2 separate regions of the Homo sapiens genome follow, and region 2 is linked to region 1. A link means that fine-mapping ties the variant in region 1 to the expression of a gene that starts in the linked region. Tissue or cell type: lung. Region 1 holds a variant in brackets; the other region holds the start of a gene. All regions are shown on one strand. Distances are between the middles of the regions.

Region 1 (10,340 bases):
CAAGTCAATGATGATAATTGTACCAAAAGGAAATCATGCAGAAGACAGAGAAAGAGCTATTGAACCACAACTTTATTTATAAGTATGAGAAGACTTCAAATTTAAGACAAAGTTTTGGATAATTTTTTAAGGATTATGTGCATCTTAGGAGTCCAATCAGTAGTCGGTGAAGTGCTCTATCTTCATAAATGCCCATGACTCACCACCAGCCATTAAAATCATGGCAGTTATAGGATCCCCAAAAGCCTCAGGGATAAATTATACATTGGCATTGTGACAGACAGGCCTAATAGGTCTTTCCCACCAGTAATAAATATGTTCCTGCACTCTATGCCAAGGTACATTTTACTGACTTCCTTTGATACCATGGTGAAGCCTCAGTCTTAGTAGTAAAGGATGTTTCCGTTTAAAGATGCTTCACGGCAAGCATTAAGCCACTGAGTTAACTGCTCAAGAAGTTCATGGCAATACCCTGTACATCTTAGCATGACATTTAGAGACAATATGTAGGTGTGTTTAGTAAAGCAATGCTTAAGCTCTTCCTAGAAGGCAAATCTCCAGCCCATTAGTTTTTCATTACAGTGAATGCTGGAAGGAAAAGGGCTTGTCAGCCACCCTCCTTGTGTTCCAGGGTTTGGGTGCCTCTCTCCAATCTCACCCTTCCTAGGCTCAATCTAATCCTGTCTGGGTCAAACCACTCTGGCTTGGATCTGACTTAGGAAATTTGGTCTGCTCCCAGTACAGAGTTGAAAAACATTTAAATGCCACTTTCTACCTTTGGGTTTGAAGACAGTTAAAATGGGACATTGGCAGGGGGTGCTAAATTAATCTGAACCAATTAATCAGGATAAAACATGATTCTTTATTAGTTATGGAATCCAAACTACTGAGAATTGATAGAGTCATCATATACTTAATGCTCCTGATTATGAACTAGATGTGGAATCTAGTTTTGTTGTATTTGGTATGCCCTACCCAAGTTTAGAAAACACATTAAGGCCTAATCAAAATTAGTGAAATGTAAGCAGATTTTGGCAGTAGGTCCCTATTCAGTTACCTTTGCTTGTAATAATCTCACATGCACACAAACGTACTTTAAACAATAGAGTATGGAAAAGCCACTAACAAGAATTTATCAAAAATTTCCAATAATTAGCAATTTAAAATATATGGATAAATGAAAATTTGTGTTTATAATGACCCTGGGAAGCATTATGTTTCAAATTCATTTAAAAATTGTATTCTATATGTTGCATTGTTAAATACTTATTTTTTGCATTATGATTCTTTGAGAATTGCAAATTATATAGTAACTCCATATATGGAGTTACATGGTAATTTCAAGTTAACCAAAATGCCATACCATATTATTTATCGACTACCATGGAAATTAAAACAGTCCATATAACTTGAATTTCCAGCACTGAATTGAAAGCTTTTTAGAGCTATAGCTTTCAATTCAGTCATTTTATTGAGAAAAAATGTGCTCTATTGCAATGAAGGGGTCTGTCCAAGGATATATAGACATTTGGCAGTTAAGGAGACACTGTGGTCTGGCCTCCTGACTTGCAAATTGGTGCCCTTACTTCTACAGAATATCAAGCAGGAATCAGACATTCCAATATTTTTGAATGGCCAAAACTTTTCTACGTATGAACTGTACCAGCTACCCAGGTTATAAATTGAGCCCATATTAGAGAGAGGCTATTTTGAGTATAGCCATACTGGTCCTATTGGGAGTCTATTTTATGTAGAGTTGGCTAAGAATTCAGTGTGAAAGGTGAATGGGAGGGATGAAGGAAATAGGAAATGAGGTATTGCTCCTTAAAGAGTTCACAATGAACATTCACTATCCATTCTCCTATCTCATGTTGCTATTTTTTCAGCTTTTGGCATAACATGCACATCTTTAGCCCCATTCAAGGGAATATGTAGGTGAGTAGATAGATGCTGCTCAGCTATATCTCCATGTGCTTCTAGGGAGGTCCTCCCACATTGGCTTTCAAAGAGCACAAACTCCTAGGGGAGGAGCTACCTTGCCTCCTACCTCTAATTGTGAACCAGCAAACCAGATCCCTTTCCTTTAAGACTGTATGACAAAATAAGTCTCCAAAACAGGAGGAAATGGGAATGAAAAAGAACACTGAAGAGGAAATTGGTTTAGTCACCATTTTCCCTAGGATAACTCCAGTCCCACAGCAGAGACTCAGGATGCAGTCATATGGCAACTCCAGTGCAGCACCAACTGAATGCATGCCAGGGAGGTGCCCAGAAGTGTTTGCAGGGTCAGGAGAGATTAAGCATGTCTCCACCTGGATGAACACAAGGTTGCCTGAAACTTTTGCCATTGATTTTTACCTTTGTTGACTTGTGAAGTCTCATGAGGGTCATTTTTTTTTTTTTTTGGAGTTTTCAAGGTTCTTTCACATAATCTCTTTAATTGCATGCTCATACTTTGGGTGATAGAACTCATTCTTTCCATTTTTGATCAGTGGCAAGACTGGGACTCAAATCTAGGACTCCTGATTATCTCCCGAACGATTATTCTGTGCAGTCCCCTACAACTGCTGCTTTGGGAGCACACACACGCACACAGAGGCACATGCATGCATTTTGAAAATGGAAACTATATAGGTGTGTATCTTTCCACAGGAATACTATGGTAGGTACTCTCAGAAACAACACCAACAATATGCTCTATAAATCTGGAATCTGTAGTTCAGTGGTTATTTGGGGATATCAGCAAAGTGGCTTTCATCAGTATGCATGTGCATATATATGAATATATACATACATACATGTATATATAGCATTTGGCACATCTATGTCTATATCATCTCTATTATATATTTCATCATCCACATATCAGTCACTATCCTTAGCTAGTGCCCAGGTGCTCCAAAAAATGCACAGTGGCTATCAGCATAAGCTGATAGAGTTAATTGTTTTAGAGTTAATAGAAGAACACAAGCAACCGGTCATTTGGCTCAAGAACTGAGAAACTTCTTTACATTCAGACTTTCCTGACACTGCTTACATTTAAGTAGCAATTGTAAGGCATCGCAGCTGGTTCGGCTCCTAGCAGTGACAACAAAGTTGTTATTGTATGCAATTGGTGGCCTTCCTCCCACTGGCCATGCCTCACCATAGCGCAGCCATGCTGTATGGTGTCTGCACTGCTGTGTGCTGGTGGGGGCAAGCCCCAGAGAGGGATGGGGGAAGGCAGGAGGCTTGGCACTTACAGGACTGAATTTCCAGGTTTTCTGGGAAATTTTCAGAGGTTGTTGATGGCGTCTGTATCTAAGCAGAGCAGGGGGTGTGTTCCCCAGTCCAGGTGTGCAGTTGCCAACCTTTGCCAACTATGATTAGACATGGATTCATGCATCTAGATGTAGTCCATCATTTGCATATGTAATTAATTATAATATGGTTAGTTCTTTCTGATCTCCCTTTCCTATAAATTGAATTACTCAGGGACTCTCATATGACACTAAAATCTTTTTAAAAAGTACACATGACATTTTGAAGGATAAGACTAACTGCTATTTATAGCACTCCAACTTCAAATTCAGAGCCTTCTGCTGTGATCAGACAGCAAGGAGTGCCTTCGTCTTTCAGCAAGCAGCCTCAGAAAGCTCGCAGCAACGGCTTCTCTCCTCAATAGTCTTCAATGCTCAATGGTGATCATGAAAATCACGACACCCCAAGTTAAAGACTTCTTCACTGGCACTCAGAAAGGATGATTCACTCATGCATTCGTTTATTTAACTCACATGTGTATTGAGTACCAACCTACTGTGTGCCAAACCCTGTCTCAGATGATCTACAGGTAGCCATCAATGTCATTCCTGGAGTTATGGGTTGAAACGTGCCCCCCTCAAATTTATGTGCTGAAGTCCTAATCCCCAGAACCTCAGAATATGACCTTACTTGGAAATTCTGTTGTTGCAGATGTAATTAGTCATGATAAGGTCATGCTAGAGTAGGGCAGACCCTTCGTTGAATATGACTGTGTCCTTACACAAAGGGGAAATTTATACACAGATAGGGACTCGGAGAATGCCAGTCGAAGAAGAAGACACAGATCAGGGTGATACTTCTACAAGCCAAGGAAAGCTGAAGACAGGCAGAAAAACCACTAGCAGCTTGGAAAAGGCGTGGACCAGAGTCTCCCTCCCAGTTCTCAGAAAGAGTCCACTCTGCCAATACCTTGATCTCAGACTTCCAGCCTCCAGAGCTGTGAGACAATACATGTCTGTTGTTTAGGCCACGCAGCTGATGGTGCCTTGTTACAGCAGCCTAGGACACAAATACATCTGAGTGCCCAGTTTGGGTAGGGTGGGTGCTCTAAGGCTGAGGATACGCAGTTGGGACCCCCTGCTGCCAGCAGCTCCTATGGCACCCAGGGCACTCCCTATGTGAGTAGATTTCAAACTGAATTCTGGCTCCTTCCAGGGGTTTAGATCTTCCCACTGCTTGGCCCTAAATGTCTGCAGGTGTGCTGAGGTGTTGATCCTCTCAGCTTTCAAGATACTTGGGAAAGACCCAGGTGGCTGGGGCCTCCAACTCCCTCCATTTACTGAAAATGCCAGATACCATTATCAGTTTTTTCAGACATGATGGTAACATGATGAATAAACCCTAGTCTAAGCAAACAAAAATTAAAAATCAAGCATGACTGGGGCCGATGTCTATGGTCTTGCAATTGTTGTAGTAGGCCAGATTGTGGAAGGGGAGGATTTATCTGAGCTGGACTCTAAATAGGGCAGCTTACTGAAAGGCTCTGGCAGGAACCAAGCAAAGGTTTCCACATGGTCAAACTGGACTTTTGCAGTCTGGCTGCTGCCCAGTGTGTGGGAGGGGGACAGGAAATCCAGCTCTTAACAGAAGGCCAAGCAGGCAAGTTGTCACATTTGGTAGAAGCCAGAAGGGGTGGGATGTTTCCTCCCCAGTAGTGAAGGGAGGGGCGGGTCCTGTCCAGGACTGAGGGATCTGCTGCT[C/G]TCCTTGGTTCTCAGCTTACTCAAGCCTCTCAAGTATGTTAAAAATTTGGTCCTATATTTTGGAAAGTGTTTAGAAAAAAAACAAAGGTTTAAAAACCAGAATGTCTCAAAGCTATAGAGTAAAAATTCATTCATTTATATTTAAGTGATATAATTTATAACAGAGACAGAAGCAGAAAACCAGGAGAAAGGATGAAACATTCTTAACTCCTTCAATGTGTGTAAATGAGGAAGGAACATATCAGTTGGTTCATAATATCTATATATATATTTAATTCCTCTTGTTTTTGGGGATCTTTTTTTTTCTAATACTTATTACCACTATACAGAATGCAGGTGGGAATAAAGGAATAACGAAAGAATATAAATTACTGAATCGATCTTGCAAATGTTTATGTATGGTTCAAATTATTTACTTCTAGAAAAGGTCTTAAGAATCTTACTCAGAACCTTTATACTCTTATTTTCTCACAAAGCTAGTGACTGTATAGTGTAAATTAATGGCTTCTTGCAGAATAAATGTAGCAAGTAGTTAGTGTAGGAGAAATGCATCTGTGCTAGAGGCAGGCATACTGACATCGGTGCCTGTCTATATCACATGTCTGAGAAGGTACGTGATGGAATGAAATGAATTAATGAATGGAAAATGGCCCAAAAAAAGATGGAAAATGGCCTAAAAAAGCCATACAATCAAAAGAAGTATCATGAGTATCATGAGGTGAATTTACTGCATGTCAGAGCTACTCTTTCCACATCTCAATCATCCTGAAAGATGCCAGCATTTAATATCAGTAATCATGATGATAACCCTGAGAATGGATTACATTATTTTTACTATAATTTCTCAGGTGTTTCAGAGGTTGTATGATTAACCGTGCAAAAAGGAGTTAATATTTTCAAAAATTCTGATTTTTAAAGTGGTCTGTTTCAGGACATCTGAACAAAAAGGTTAAAGCCTACAATAATACCATGGCTGAAAAACTACACGCCAATATTTGTAATATTTTATATGCATATATATATACACACACACATATACAGAGATAGTTCAAGAGAGTGATTCAAGGCAATTTGTAAATGTATTTTGTTTAAGTTGTCCTAAGTGGTTCTCAATGTTTTAACATGTTTAGTTTCATAGTCAACTTGCATGATGTGTGGGATTTCTATGTGCAAGATATCCTCCCTTTTAAAAATTATTCATTTATTTTTAATTGATAATAATTGTATATATGTATGGGGTACAGTGTGATATTTTGGTCTATGTAGAAATATTCAGGCGAGCGAATTAACATATCTGTCACCCCATCAACTTACCACATTTTTGTTGAATGTTCAACCCTTGATGTGCATGTTGAGAGACTATTGTTGGTAACATTGCTTTTGACATGTCCCACAACTGATTGTATGTAACATGATAGTATGCCATGAAAACTTGGTTGAGTACTGTGGCAGAAAGGTCAGGATTTTAGGATTTGAGAAAGTTAAATTTTTCTCCAGTCACAAAGCTTATCCTTCTGTTAATTTCTGTTATTTTGCAGTCTGCTGGGTTTAATATGGGACTCCAAGGGGGCTCCTAGTTTAGACCCTTGCCTCCTGGCAGGACATATTTTCCCCTAATGAGACAGCACTGGCCAAATGCTTTATTCTTCTCTGCACAGTGTAGCTGTGGGATTGCATAGGGCTCATTATGCACCCAAGTAGTCATGTCCTAGTTTCTGCTTTTTTGCAGTGCTGGTATATTCATGAAAGAGTGTAATGTAATATACAACAGGTTTTTTTTAAAATATCTTGGGATATTGTAAAAAGGAGTAATTTGCTAGAAAGGTAAGAAGAGGGAATTAAAGCTTCAATAAATCTGTGTTAGGCTCACTGCCTTGCTGTATTTGAGGTCTTACCTAGTTTATTTCAAGCTTGGGGTTCTCCCTAAGGTACACAGGACCCAAGCTGATATATTTTAGATGCAATAATATTTGGGACAGAAAATTCCAACTCTTGTTTTGTGAAATGCTAGGGGATCCTCAACTATTTCAAGAAGGATTACAAGACAGCTAAAAGGAAAATGATTTTAAAATTAATTTAATAAACTAACCCATGCCATTGAGTTCCCTTTTTGCAGTATTGGGTTATGACCCAAACTGTGCCAAATACAAGGCATTTAAACACAAATGGTTCATAATGCTGGCTCTCAGAGAACTTAGTCAAGTAAAAGAGGCCCGCAAAAAATGCAGTGAAATGTTACAGGCATTGCCTACAGGGGAGGGTTGAGAGAAGTGATAGTTTTTGAACTTGAGGTAGGGCTTCAGGGAACTGCTCTACTGTCCCCTGAAGGGGTGCAGGCTGGGAGGCACTTTGGAAGCAGTATCTTCTGTCTGTGAAAGTGTGACTGACTCTTAGAGCAATATGTGTTTCTTTTCAAAAAGATCCCCTTTACAGAAAGGAGGAATGCCAGATTTTATAATATTTTTTCCTTGCTACTCATTTCTTTGACCGATTTATTAGGGAAGGCATGTGTGTGTGTGTGATATAATATTCACACAATATACATATATATTACCACATTACCACAAACATATATACATGTTTGTACATATATGTTTGTATATCCTATGTATATATGCATATATGTATACATGTTTGTATGTGTGTGTAACATTATGTGAATCTTTTATTATACATTAATATGTTATTTATAATAATGTATATGTTATATAATATATTAATATAATATGTATAATTTTGTACATTTATTATGTATTTTTATATATAAATTTTTAGCCAAAGCTAATAGAAGTGAGATCAATAAAACATTATATTTACTCCCATGTCGAGAAATACCAAACCCTTCTGGCAGGTGTGAGCAAGTACTTGCTTTCAGAGCTTTGCAGGAAATTCCTGAATTAATACACAAGACGACTTTTTTTCCTGATAGCAGAAATTAACTTTCAGAATAAAAACAGTAACTCTTGTTGTAAACAACTTTGAAAGAGTGATTGGCATTTGTTTATTTGCATGTACGTCTACCTGTTTATTCACCAAATATTTTCTGAGTGTTTACTATGAATAATTGTGAGTTTCTGTGATAATAAAACTATACTTTCAGCTCTCTGAGGGCAGGAAAGCTTTTTTATTAATCATTGGATCCTTGTATCTAGTACAGTATCTGGAAAATGCAGACATTCCATATAGTATTAATATGTTCGGTTTGTTGAAGTAACATATACCGTGAAGACACTTGGAATGGTCCCTTCAGTTCAGGAAATATGTATAGCGCGATTGAGGACATATTCAGAAGGAACTAGTAAGTAGTCAATATAGAATGGGTGCTGCTTAATTTGTGCATGTAATATATGTTTGGGGCCATCGGTGGAGAGAGACAGTTCCAGCTGAATAAAACATGATGATACACAAGTGAATACACTTTATTGATGACTTCAATTTGTAAGATGATCAGGTCAGGCAAATTACATTGTTGCTAACTGACTTCAATAAATTTTGACTGTACAAGCAGCAGAAAGAAATTTCTGTCTCTTATATTTCAACTGACCTCTCAGAAAATTAGCCATTTTTTTTCAATACGTAATGCCTCATGAAGATGGCTTGCGTGGCCCCTGAAGTAGTGAGGTGCATTTTCTTAAGTGGACTGAACATCTTGGTCGTCTGTGTGCTGGCTGTGTTCTCCGGCCTCAGCCTGGCAGAGTTGTTTCGTAATGGCTGCATTTTCTGCCTGAGTGATGGAAAACACGTTTGGTAGTTTTAGAGAAAATAATTGGTATTTTAATTTCTCTGTCTTGAACGTCTAGTACTACTTTGTGGAGGAATTTGTGACGTGATGTTGTTGCTTTCCATTTGGACTGTTGAAGAAGTCATGAGGGTTGATGCCTGAATGATTTTCCATAGAAATGAACCTGAACAGTTTTGGTGAAAACCTTCTTTAATGCAAACAAGAATATATTTCTTTTGGGGTTGGGGCTGAAAATAGACATTTTAATTTCATTATGTTATTAGTTTAAAAATCTATTAAAACCAACAATGTGAACTGTTTTGAGCTCTTACCCCCCTCCCCTGCCCAACGCCTTAAAAGGTAAATGGAGTATTTCTGAGAGAATTCCCAAAGAGTATCTTGTTTGGACCACCAACTACAATTTTGACTTTCACTTTCTCACCATTTCCTGTAAAATCGGGACTGTTTCATCAGTGATGATCTGCATTCTTTTATGCCTTTCCCTGAGACGAGAGTGCCCTTCCCTGGCTCCAACAAACAACTCCTGCTTATCTTTCAAGATTGACTTTAAATGTTACCTCGTGAGACTCAGTTTCTGAGTTCTCCACTTCTGTTGTAATTGATGAAGAGACTAGGCACATAATTGTAATTGAGCTATTTCCACGGCTGCTTTCCCTGTGTGTGAGTGCTTCCAGGCTCAGGATTGGGTTTGACATTGCCTGGTGCCTTCCAGGAGCAGTGCCCTGCCCACAGTGAGGTGGAAGACACTGTTGAATTGATTGTTGGATAGCTGAATGTGAACCTTGCAGAGGGGCCTTGCTTGGCCCTGCCTTTTTCCCTGGAGAACTGTAAGGCTATCAGTGCTTGGAAGGTGCTCTGTTGTCCTTGAACTAAATGTCTGCTCCTATGGCTGTGGCTCAGGAAGGAGTAGGTTGGTCCGCTACAGGAGGAGGAGAACTCACTTGCTTTTGTCAGGGTTGTGTCTCCTCTCTACCCCACTTGACTTTTCACACAGCCCCTGAGTGATGTACCTGCCGAGCTCTGGACTGAAAGGGATATCTGGGGCTGTGGACGGAGTCCAGAAGTAGGGCTTCGATGGAAGAGCTAAATGTTTCTTTATTCTTCATATGTCTCTGAGGATGTTGTTGATAGCAGAAAACAATCAGCAAGAAATTTCTGCTATCAGAAGCTTTCAAATCCATGCCCTGAAAAACAAAACAAAACAAAACAATACACTTCCTTCTCCTATAAGTTCTAATTCTTATATTTTTCCTAGGGCTATCACTGATGTCTCTATCCCTTTAAGCCATCCAGGGGGGTAGTTGGAATTCCTAACAGCACTAGGATTAATAGTGCAGTGGTATAATGCCATTCATAAGTGTTTGTGGGGAATACAATTTCTAGTGGATTTGATTTTTTATAAAACATACAGACATTTTAAACCCTTGGCCCAAGTATCAGTCCTATTTATTCTTTTAATTGGCATTAGTTTGGTGATCTTGGATCTGAATTTCTCCTTGGTAAACAGTAATAAATATTAGCTTCCAAAGTTTGTTGTAAGAATGAAAGACAACGCTGTAAATGAAACCTCCTTGAAAATAGTATTTTTGAAAATTGGT
Region 2 (10,340 bases), 400 kb after region 1:
TCTGTTGGCAAGCCATGGTGGCTCATGCCTTACTCTTTAGCTGATGATTTTTTTTTTTTAATCATCAAGAGGAGTGTGAGGATAGGGCAATAGAAATTTTCCAGGTAGAGGGAACAACATACTTAAAGTTGGAGGACCAAAAGGATCATAGCATCTTCAGGAGACCATCAAGCACAGTGTACTAATTACCTTCCAAACTGATGCTTGTATAGTATTTTAGTGTTTTTAGAAGTACTTTCTCATAGACCCTCATCATAGTCTCTGAAAGGTAGAGAAATGTTTTTATTATCAATCAGTTGGTGTGAAAGTAGGCTTACGGGACTCAGTTCACAAATGTAGTTAATAATAACTAAGGTTTGAACTTGGGACTTATTTCGTCAAAATTTAAAATAACTTCTTATGTTTCGAATTATCTAAAATCTTGTCATGCATCCACTGTGGGGGGGTGGTGGTGAGGAAATATACATAGGGAATACATATATTTTGATATTGAAAAAACATGGAAACTGCAAAAGAATTTACAAGATAGAAATGAGTAAACTGGAAGATGATGATAATACAGTCATAGCTGTCATTTTCAATTAGGGTGCACCAGATGTGGTACTAGGATCTTTACATTTATTTACTAAATTTAATCTCACAGCAGTTGAAAAGGAGGCTCTGTTTTCACCTCAATTTGAGAGATGAAGAAATTGAGGCTGAGAGAGACTAAAGCAACACCTTGGAGGTCATTATACAGCTAGGAAGTTGCAGAGTCAAGAAATGAACCAAGAACCTCTGAAATGAGAGTTCAGGCTCCCAATAGCTTGGTGAGGAGCTACACCACCTGGGCCGTACTTTATTTTCCTCTTTATAACGTCAAAGGTAAAATTAACAACTCCAAGGAGGTTCTGATGAGTGACAAATTATTTTCTGAACTACAGTAACCTTTACATTTGTGTTCACCGGCCCTGAATTGGTTTTCACCCTAGCTTTGCACATTCTTTTATCACAGCTTAAGACAGCAGATGGCTCTCTTGCGTTTTCTTTCACTTACCTCCATCCGTAAACAACTAAACAGCGTTTTGGGGAGGTAAAATGAAAACGCAGGGATTAACCTAAAAGACCTTGATTATCCCAATGCTGCCCCCCTCTCCAAGATCCCTTAAAATAGGAAGCTACGTTGAAGAGAAATGACCGCTTGAGGCTCCTGAAATTCACAGCCAGAATAGATGCCCGGAGACTCCGGAGTCCGCTGTTCAGGCGCTGCGCCAGGGGTCGGGACGCTCGAGAAAGAAAGAGTATCTCTCGGTTATGGAAAAGCTGAAAGGCTTTGTGTTCCAAGGTGTTATTAACGTCGGTAGAAGCTGTGAAGATCAATTTCCTTCCCATCATGAGGGAAAAAAGTGAGAAACTGCTTTTAGGGGAGGAAAGTGTCAGAGACCCTCACAGCCAGCGCTTTTCTCCATCAGCGAACTTGCTTCTGCTGGGAGAGGTAGGGCTGGGGCGGGATCCCTGTCCGCGGTGCTGAATGTCAGGCTGGTCCGAGGCTGCTGAACAACGAAGGGAGGGCTCTGAGAGGGCCAAAAACTGACCTCCTGACCCCCAAGTCCAAGGATTTGGGGGAAAGACTGCAGCATAAGAAAATGCCTGCAAAAATAGAGGCACGGCTATAAGAACAAGAAGCTTAATGTCACTCTTTTCAAATTAATATTGTTGGCACATACATCAAAAGGCTTAAAGAACCTTTAAAAATAAACTAGGTGTGTTGGGGAAGTCATACTAGATTTAAGAGGTCACTATACTTAACATTTTACTTTTTTGAAACACTCACTGCAAGAAGCCTTTGATAATAAACCTGGATGCTTTAATCTTACAGTCATTTGCAAATTCAAATCTAGAACTTCTGAAATGTACAAATGGCGTTTCTTCAATAATAGAAACCAAGAGTAGTGACTCTTAATGTTCAGTAGGACTCATTTCAGTGAATTAAAACAACAGACACACTCAATAGCCATTTAGTTATTTTCATCTCTCTATAGACATCTTTCCCTTTTTAAGCAGGACTACAGCAACACAACATAAATGCACACTCACAAAAAAATGGAAGAAAAGAGACATATGAAACTGAAAATAGAGAGGGAAAGGCAGAGCAAAATAATTAGCATTCCCCTTTTTCTCACTTTTGCTATTTTATGAGTGACTAGGGATTGCAAGTTTCTAGCAAAACAACTCTAGCATATTCCTTTTAATAATTGTAGAATTTGTAGATGTAACATAGCAAAGTGTAGAAAATAAACTTCCAGAAGTACACTTTGTAATATATGACAAACACCGTCGTAAAGCCAATGATCCCTGCCTTAGATCTAAATCTACACACTCTCATCAGGTTGCATTTCCTTCCCAAAAGGAGACTTGTTGGTAAATGTGGAGTGAAGGTAACAAACAACAGCCCAGCAGTGGCTGCTTCCATGGAGAAGCTGTGGATAAGTTGCTTAGAGCAGAAGGTGCCCAGCCTCCCTGTAATCTGCTGCACTTCCCCCCAGTTGCCTGGTGGCGAGTACTCTACTGCCTATTCCTGAGACAAAGAGAAAGTGTGTTTTGGTTGAGAACTGCTCCCAGGGCTGCCTGCGTAGTGTGCTTGCCCTCTTTCCAGCTCTAAAGCAGTCACTGGAGAAGAAGGTTGTTGCAAGTCTCTTGATTACCAAGTGAGCCATCTCTCCCCCTTGCTTCACACTGAATTTCCAGAAGTCTAGTTCGAGCATTTCTTTCTCTTTAGCTGCCTGAGCTGATAGGCAAAGCAGTGTAAAGGGAAGAGGAGAAAAGTAAGAAGCCCGGAGCCAGAGCTGCACTTGGTTCTGCCACTCTGGTGTATCCTAGAAACCACGGAACTGTGTTCATCCAAGCATGAAGTGTTTCTCTCCCAACCTCCCCCCGGCTTTTTGTTTTTTTCGGGTGCCCTCCACTGCCGCCCTTTCTCTTGGACCTTCACATTTTCAGGTATCCAGGAGGGAACCGCTGTCGGGACACAGACAGAAAATCAAGGGGGAGGAGACGCCGGCTGTTGTATTTGAATTTCAGACACAGTTCAGATGGCTTTGCTCCCTGACAGAGCTTCTTTGCCCAGGGACACCAGAAGATGACAGCTCAAATTGGAGTGTCCTGTCTGGCTGCTTTTCACTGTCCCTGGAATAGTGTGACACCCTCCTCTGCCCCTTATATTTCTGCCCTGACTTCTTCAACATTCTCCTGGGCGTTTATCCTACCCAGCTGCTGTTCTGTAGCAGCTACTGCGGCTGTCATCTCCTCCTCCCAGGGCTGGGGAGCATATTTGGGAGTGGGGTCTTTCTATCTCGCTTAATCACACCTTCTCTCTTTCCATTCCCTCCTTTTTGCTCCGTGTAGCCTTTCAAAATGACAAACCTACCCTTCCTGCAGCAGAAGGGAGGGTCCTGCAAGTTTGGGTGGACTAGGTGAGGAGTGGAGGCTCCTCCCTCCAACCCGGGGTTGGGGGTGGCGACGGGGGGGCGTTGGTGCTGGAGGGATTAGCAGGGAGGGCGGAAACCACCTCGCCCTCCAACCGCTGCTGAGAGTTTCAGTGCACCGGTAACCACGTTAAGACCGAGAAGCCCCAACCAAGCCGCGGAAGGCTCGGGAACCAGCGAGTTGCATCTAAGAAAAAGCGCCCCGATGTTCCTTCAATTCCACCTGCTTTGGCTCGGCCTCTTAGCACCCCATCCCTGCAATCCATCTTAGCTTTCTTTCTTATTATTTTTAAATCATTATTACCTATACGTTTTGTTTCTTTCTGAAGAGGTACATCAGGAGGGGGACCACATAGGTGGAGGGGGTGTAGTGGGGTGGGAACGGAGCGTTTGATTAGAGATCTCAGGGGAGAAGATTGGTCTCTCCAGATGCTGATTTCCAAAGCACTTGACAATCACCGGCAGAAGCCGAGAGCGGGCGGCGCCGGCGGCGGCACCGGCCCGCGGGCAGCTGGAGCCCGGCGCTGAGTCCTGCCCAGCGCGACCCGGACCGACGGACGCGCAGAGACCCTGCCGGGACCCGCCCTCCAGCCGGCGCCCGGGGAGCCGCCGGCCGGCTCTACCTCCCGCCCGGGAGCCGGGCAGGGCGAGAAGGCAGCGCGAGTGGCGGTGGCGACCCCCGCCGGGGTTCCTGCGACGAGCGGTGACCAGCAGCGCCCGCAGCCGCGGTCCCGCTCTCCACTCGGACGTGGCCAAGCGGCGGCGGCCACGACGTCCGGCTTCCCGGGATCGTCCGGCTGCGCCCTGGGCGCATCTGCGCGCCTGGCCCCGCGCCCCGCGGAGAGGGCGATGGGTCCCGGTCAGGACTGAGCCCCCCTTCCCCTCTCCCCAGTCCCGCCTGGCACCCCCTCCTCTGCCCCGAGGGCGAGCCACGGTCTGCGCCGCCGCCTTCCCCTCCGGTGCCCCCGGCTCGCCGTCCTCCCGCGCCCTCCCTCCCCGGACCCGTTCCCGGGGCCACCATGGCCGCGGCCATCGCTAGCGGCTTGATCCGCCAGAAGCGGCAGGCGCGGGAGCAGCACTGGGACCGGCCGTCTGCCAGCAGGAGGCGGAGCAGCCCCAGCAAGAACCGCGGGCTCTGCAACGGCAACCTGGTGGATATCTTCTCCAAAGTGCGCATCTTCGGCCTCAAGAAGCGCAGGTTGCGGCGCCAAGGTCTGTGGGGGTCATGGTCGGGAGATGCGCCCCGGGTCGCCCCCTCCCCGCCTAAACGGAGCTTCTCCAGGCTCCTTCCCTCCCTCGGTTTTCCCGGCCCACCCCGGCCCCGGCCTCCCTTCTGAGCACTCTGGGTGCCGTCGCGGGGACCCTGGAGTCCGCTGTCGGGCAACCTGTAGCCGCCGAGAAGTGCAGCCGCCAGAGATGGCAAGTTGGCTGCTCCTCGCCGGCGGCTCCTGCCCTCCGCGTCCCTGCAGGCTGGGCTCTGGGAAACCTGTTCCCCCTGAGTCTCGGCTTCCCGGGAGGATAGGGACTGGCACTGGCTCTGGAACGCGGGGCACCCCTTCCTGCCACACCCGGGGTCGAGCCACCGCTCGCAGTCTGATCTGAGCTGGTGGGGGTTTCCATGGGGTGGGCCTGGCCTCACTTGGTCTCTGGGGTCTCCTAGAAACCTCCCGGGTTCCCAGACCTTGGACAAATGTGGATATCCTGGCGGTGCCCCCAGCGGGAGCTGCTGTAGAAGGAGTGGAGGGTGTGTGAACTATGGCCCAGTCCGCTGAGGTTCAGCAGAAGGCTGCTTAGCGCGCAGCCCTGGGCTCTGCAGCCCTTCAGTCAAATCCTGGGATGGGGACAGAGGCTCAGGGAGTCTAAAGAAAGAATCCGAATTGCGGGGAGCGGGGGGCAGAAGTAAAAATCCCTAATATGTGTCAGTTTTAATTGAAAAACTGGCGAATTGCCTGAGATACAAGCCGTTACTATATAAAGGTGACTAGAATAGTTACCTTACTACAGGTATTTCTTTGAGAAACTAGTACCTAGGATGACCTTTCACTGCCTTTGAAATGCCAGGGTCTGAGAAGGCATCCTATTCAGGAGCCAGGCGCTTTTGTCTCTCTCTCTGCCTGTCTCTGCATCCAGTTGCTAAGGCTGGTTGTTTTGCGAGCATGTGGTGTGTTCTGTGGGGGAAATGGGCATTGCTGGCTTTTCATAACCAAGTGGGGTTGGTAGGAAACATTGAAGAATCTATTTACGTTAATGGGAGTATATGTTTGCCCAGCACATTACATTGTCGGCTCCCAGCTGTATTTGTTTTAAATGCCCTGTTGTTCCAAAGACGGGGGATAGAAGCATAAGCTATACATGTGTTTCTCAAAGAGTGAGTGCGTGTCCTTACATTTGCAAATTGATGACCAAAAGTTTTGATGCTTTTTTTTTAAAGGCTAATGCTGAATATTTTAAAAGGACAATTTCTTGTTGTCACATTTAAGAAATTGGAGATTACTTGCTCTTACTATCAAGCTTCAAAGGCAAAGATAGGAAGAAAATCAGAGTGGAAGTTCTGTTAGAGAAATAAAATTATATAAGTAAAATAAGAACTTCTTGTTGGAGAATTTGGGATCAATCATATTTTCAGACCAGTGTAGGAGCCATTAAGAAAAAAATGGATTTTAATTTTCCACATTAGCCTAGAGCCTTATTCAGCCCACCTTTGTGTAATGAGACCAACTCGACTGCCTTAATCACCGTTGATAGACGGAGGATCAATCTATTATGACTTAAATTGTGCTTATCCTCTTATGTCATCAAACAGACTATCTTTTAGAATACAGTTTTCACCACATACAGCTCCAAATTGGCTGTCTACATAAAGTAAATTAACATACTATCTACTAAATAAGCTTATTTTAATATAAACAATGATTAAAACTTGTGTGTATTTCTTAAGAATATAGCCAGTAGATTATTTTATAAATATGAACAATAAATGTTTTGTGCCATATTGGGTGGCGAAGGAGGATTTGCTTTACACTTAATGAATTTTAAGTTGGGTGTTTACTTTTTTGTCAGTATAGAAAGCTGTCTGAGTTTTCTAATGGTCCGTTTCTCCATTTTCAACCCTGACTGCTCTGTTGGTATTCCTGATTTTGAAATGATAAGCAATCTTCAATGTTCTGTAAGAAAAATATATTTGAGGTCACTTTTCTACCTTACTTTGGACAGGAAAATAGAAGGGAAGATACGTTATAAGGAAATTGTATGAGAATTTTTTATTCTTCTTATATTTCTTATATAAAAGTATATATATTCTTCAGAGGAGAAAAATACAGATATATCTCTTGAGTATCAGAAAAGGATTAATTTATTAGTATCACTAATTTTAAGCAAAACAAATATTAAGACTTTATGTTATGTAAATTATATATCGACATATAATAGTATGCTTTTATATTATTATATATAACAATATAATTATTCATTTAATTAAGTCTTATTGTCGAACATATTTTCAAGCATATTTACCTTCTTATTACACACTCTTTACATAGGGAATTGCCCTCAGAAAATTTTAAAAAATCATATTTATTAAAGATACAACCTTTAAGTCTGATGGTTTTATATGTCTTTATAGCTGAAAATAATATAACAATTATTGAATCTTTACAATCTGTTAGGCTCTGTAGCAGGTATTATATATACATACAGCAGTGAATAGAAGAGTTGAAGTTCCTGCCATCATGGAGCTCACAAACATGGGGTAGAGAGTCATTGCCTATGGAAAGGAACAAATTAATAAGAAATAATAAAATTCAAAGTCCTATAAAGCATGAAGAGAGCTGGGATAAAGAATTATGGAGGAGAGAGGGGTGGGGAGAGGGATCTAATTAGATAAAGTAGTCAGGGTGGGCAACACTGGGATCCACAGGTTGAGAGATGACAGGTAAGAAGGATGCAGAGATTTTAAGAGCAGGTAGAAAAAGCAATGTGTGTGCAGAGACCTTGAGGTGGAAAAAATATTGTCCCATTGGGAGAAAAAAAAGAGGCATAGAAATTTTAAGCACATTGTCAAGTAGAATATAGTGTGATATGCTTGAAAACAGAATAAAGAATAGCTCCACATTTTGTGTTTTGGGGAAGGGTAATACACATTTTTGAAATGTAGGGTTTTAAAAAATCCTTTATTAAGTAGTAATTTATTTAATGTAAAGATTATTGAGTTGGAGCCCTACACCCACACTCTTTCCTATCTCCATCACCCCTACCCCTATAGAAGAGTGATGTTTATACCAGTTGACTTACTCTTGTGAAGGACAGAAATTTGCAAGATGGCTATTAATGGTGTGGTAGGCAGCATGACTGCAACCCACCTTTCCAGATTCAGCTCCATCTACCCTCCACCGACCTCCACAGATTTCAAACACAATACAATGCCACACACCCCGCAAATTAGTCATATGCTTTCAAATCCTTATCCTTTTGTTTGTGCTTTACTGTGTGTCTAGCATCTTCTCCTCACTTCTACATTCACCTGTTGAAATTATGAAATTATTCTCATTTTGAAAAGCTGAGAGAAAATGCCATCTCCTCTGAGAAGCCTTCATTTATTGGATACAATTAAAAATAATTCTCCTGTGGTATTTCATACGTCACTGTTGTTGTTTATATATACCTGATAATAATTAATTAAGTATACATATTCAGCTGATTGTAGGGAAGAAGCAAAGTCTGTGTTTTCTGCATCTTCATAGGCTCTCAAATCTTGAGAGTGTTTGCCATACACTGGGTTCTCCTCATTGCCCTTGGATTGGAGTGAAATAAGGAAGGTTAATAGGCCCAAGCTAAAAAAGAAAGTATCCTTGAACCAGAGTGATCTAACTAGATAATTTTAGACATAAAAATACTTTTCAAATTTTATACCTTTTTTACTTTCCCTAAATAAATATAATTATATCTTTTTTTAAGAGAATTAGAGGGATTACATATTTGTGGGTTATTTATAAGAATGCAAGAACATAAACAACCTCATTTTAAAGCTTAACTAATATATGAACAAAGATATTTACATATATTGATTTAGCCAAAGAAAGGGGAATTTACAAGGAAATCAACAGTTTGCAAATAGTTTTATTATTTGGAATCTTAACAAAAATGAAAACTAAAGTAGCCACTGACTACAATGGTGTATAATGAACATTGTATCCCCAAAAGTGTTATGTTTTTATTATGAATTTTTCAATCAAACAAGAACCATAATTGTTCACAGGATAATAACCTTTCTAAATCTTTGGCATGGCTGCTAATGCAGTTGTTTCTTGAGATTTACTTTTTTGGGGCTGTGATCATGAGAGCTATGGTATTATGTGCCATGTATGCTTAATCAGCAGGTGCCTGGGCTTCTTACTAACATTTTAACTAAAATAAATTACAGTATGTATAAGGAATGGAAAGTGAGGTACTTAAAATGTGTTTTCAAGTTAATGCATAATATAAAAAGCAGAAATGCATGTACACCTATAGAAATAAACTGCTTTGCTCCAGTGTGATAGTGAAATCCATCAGTTATTCTAAGAAAAGTGTCCTTCCTTCTTACAAGGTGCTATGTAAGGAAACAAGTGTCTACCGTCTCAGAAAATAATCCACAGCAAATAGTCATCAAAAAAAAAAAAAAACACTGTTTTTGTGCGCTACTGTTTTAGTGTCATTACCATGTGCTCATACAAAGACCACATGCTTGTTTGTTTTGGCTGTTTTGGCTAAACTAAAACAAGGGAACATTTTTCTTCAAAGCACTTTTTATTTTTTGGAAGATATTTTCTCTTTGGTGTTGGTTTTCTAAGGCCATACCCATTGGAGTCTTACTACATATTAATACCTGTTGCTAACTTTTTGATAATTATAATTTTATTATTTGTTAGTTGTATTAAGGTTAGATCAAATTATGGTCTTCTAAATTAAAATGTTGAGTTTTGTTTTGTTTTGTTTTTAACAAGGGACATACTATAAATGCAATTTCTAAGCAGGGAATCTTATGAGAATATTACCAGATTGGTCAATGAAATAATGTTAGAGACAAAAAAGGCATTCATTGTTTATGCATTTTCCTCCTGTGGCTTAATTGTTATGATTTCACAGTCCATATTTGCTATAGGTTTCTGAAAATGTTTAATACCTCAGTAGTTCAATAAGTAAAGTGTAAAATAGTGTAACAGATTAGGTATAATGTAATTAAACATAAAGAAGATGGTTTGCTTTGGGTTTAGTTATATCCATAGATTGAGTTGAGTTTACATATATTAATAATCTATGGCCAACTGTCTGGTGAAGAAATCCTGTGACCTTTCCTAACAAGATTTCAGATACACAAAACCTTCTGTCCCAAAGTTACCGTAATCAATTACGGGCTTCACTTCACATTTTGAATTTGAATACTTTTACATTTAGCCCCAAACTTGTGATTTTTGTTAGTAATTCCATTCTCTATGATGTTACTGTGAGAACAAGTATTTTCAAACCCAACAAGAACCTCCCTTCTCTTTGGTGTAAAGTTACGTCTTCTAAATTTTATTTATTTAAATTTTTTTAAATGGTAGAAATTTAAAAGGAAAGGTTTCTAAATATGATTTATCCACTTAGTTATGGAATTCTATATTTTTCTTAGATATAATTTATATTAATGTCTCCCCAAATGTTGAGAAACTTTAGCCAAAGAGGACTATGATATTTAGATAATACAAATGTTATATAATATTTCAAATATTGTTTTAGCACCCAACAACTAAAACACACACACACACACACACACACACACACACACACACACACACACACACACACACGAATCCAAATCTCTAAGAGACCATTTCAGAGACGTCAATGCAATTTAAA

What was found. PIP is the estimated chance that this variant, and not a neighbour inherited with it, causes the effect.
Region 2: FGF14 starts here. The variant in region 1 is the best candidate, but not a certain one, in a credible set for the expression of FGF14 in lung (TOPMed, PIP 0.53).

Annotation. Positions count from the first base shown.
Region 1 is chr13:102,312,329-102,322,668 of GRCh38, reverse strand. All of the region lies in intron 3 of FGF14-IT1 (FGF14 intronic transcript 1), which reads left to right. LOC107984615 (a long non-coding RNA gene) reads right to left here. Exons shown (of 5, transcript XR_007063856.1): 5 at 9,854-9,926. It also overlaps a transcript of FGF14 not described here. Among named protein-coding and RNA genes, the nearest start is that of FGF14-AS1, 50 kb to the left of the region's middle. The variant C/G (reference allele first, on the strand shown) is at 5,001.
Region 2 is chr13:101,910,789-101,921,128 of GRCh38, reverse strand. FGF14 (fibroblast growth factor 14) reads left to right here and starts at 4,184. Exons shown (of 5, transcript NM_004115.4): 1 at 4,184-4,676. The coding sequence starts at 4,484. RefSeq lists an enhancer at 2,352-2,853.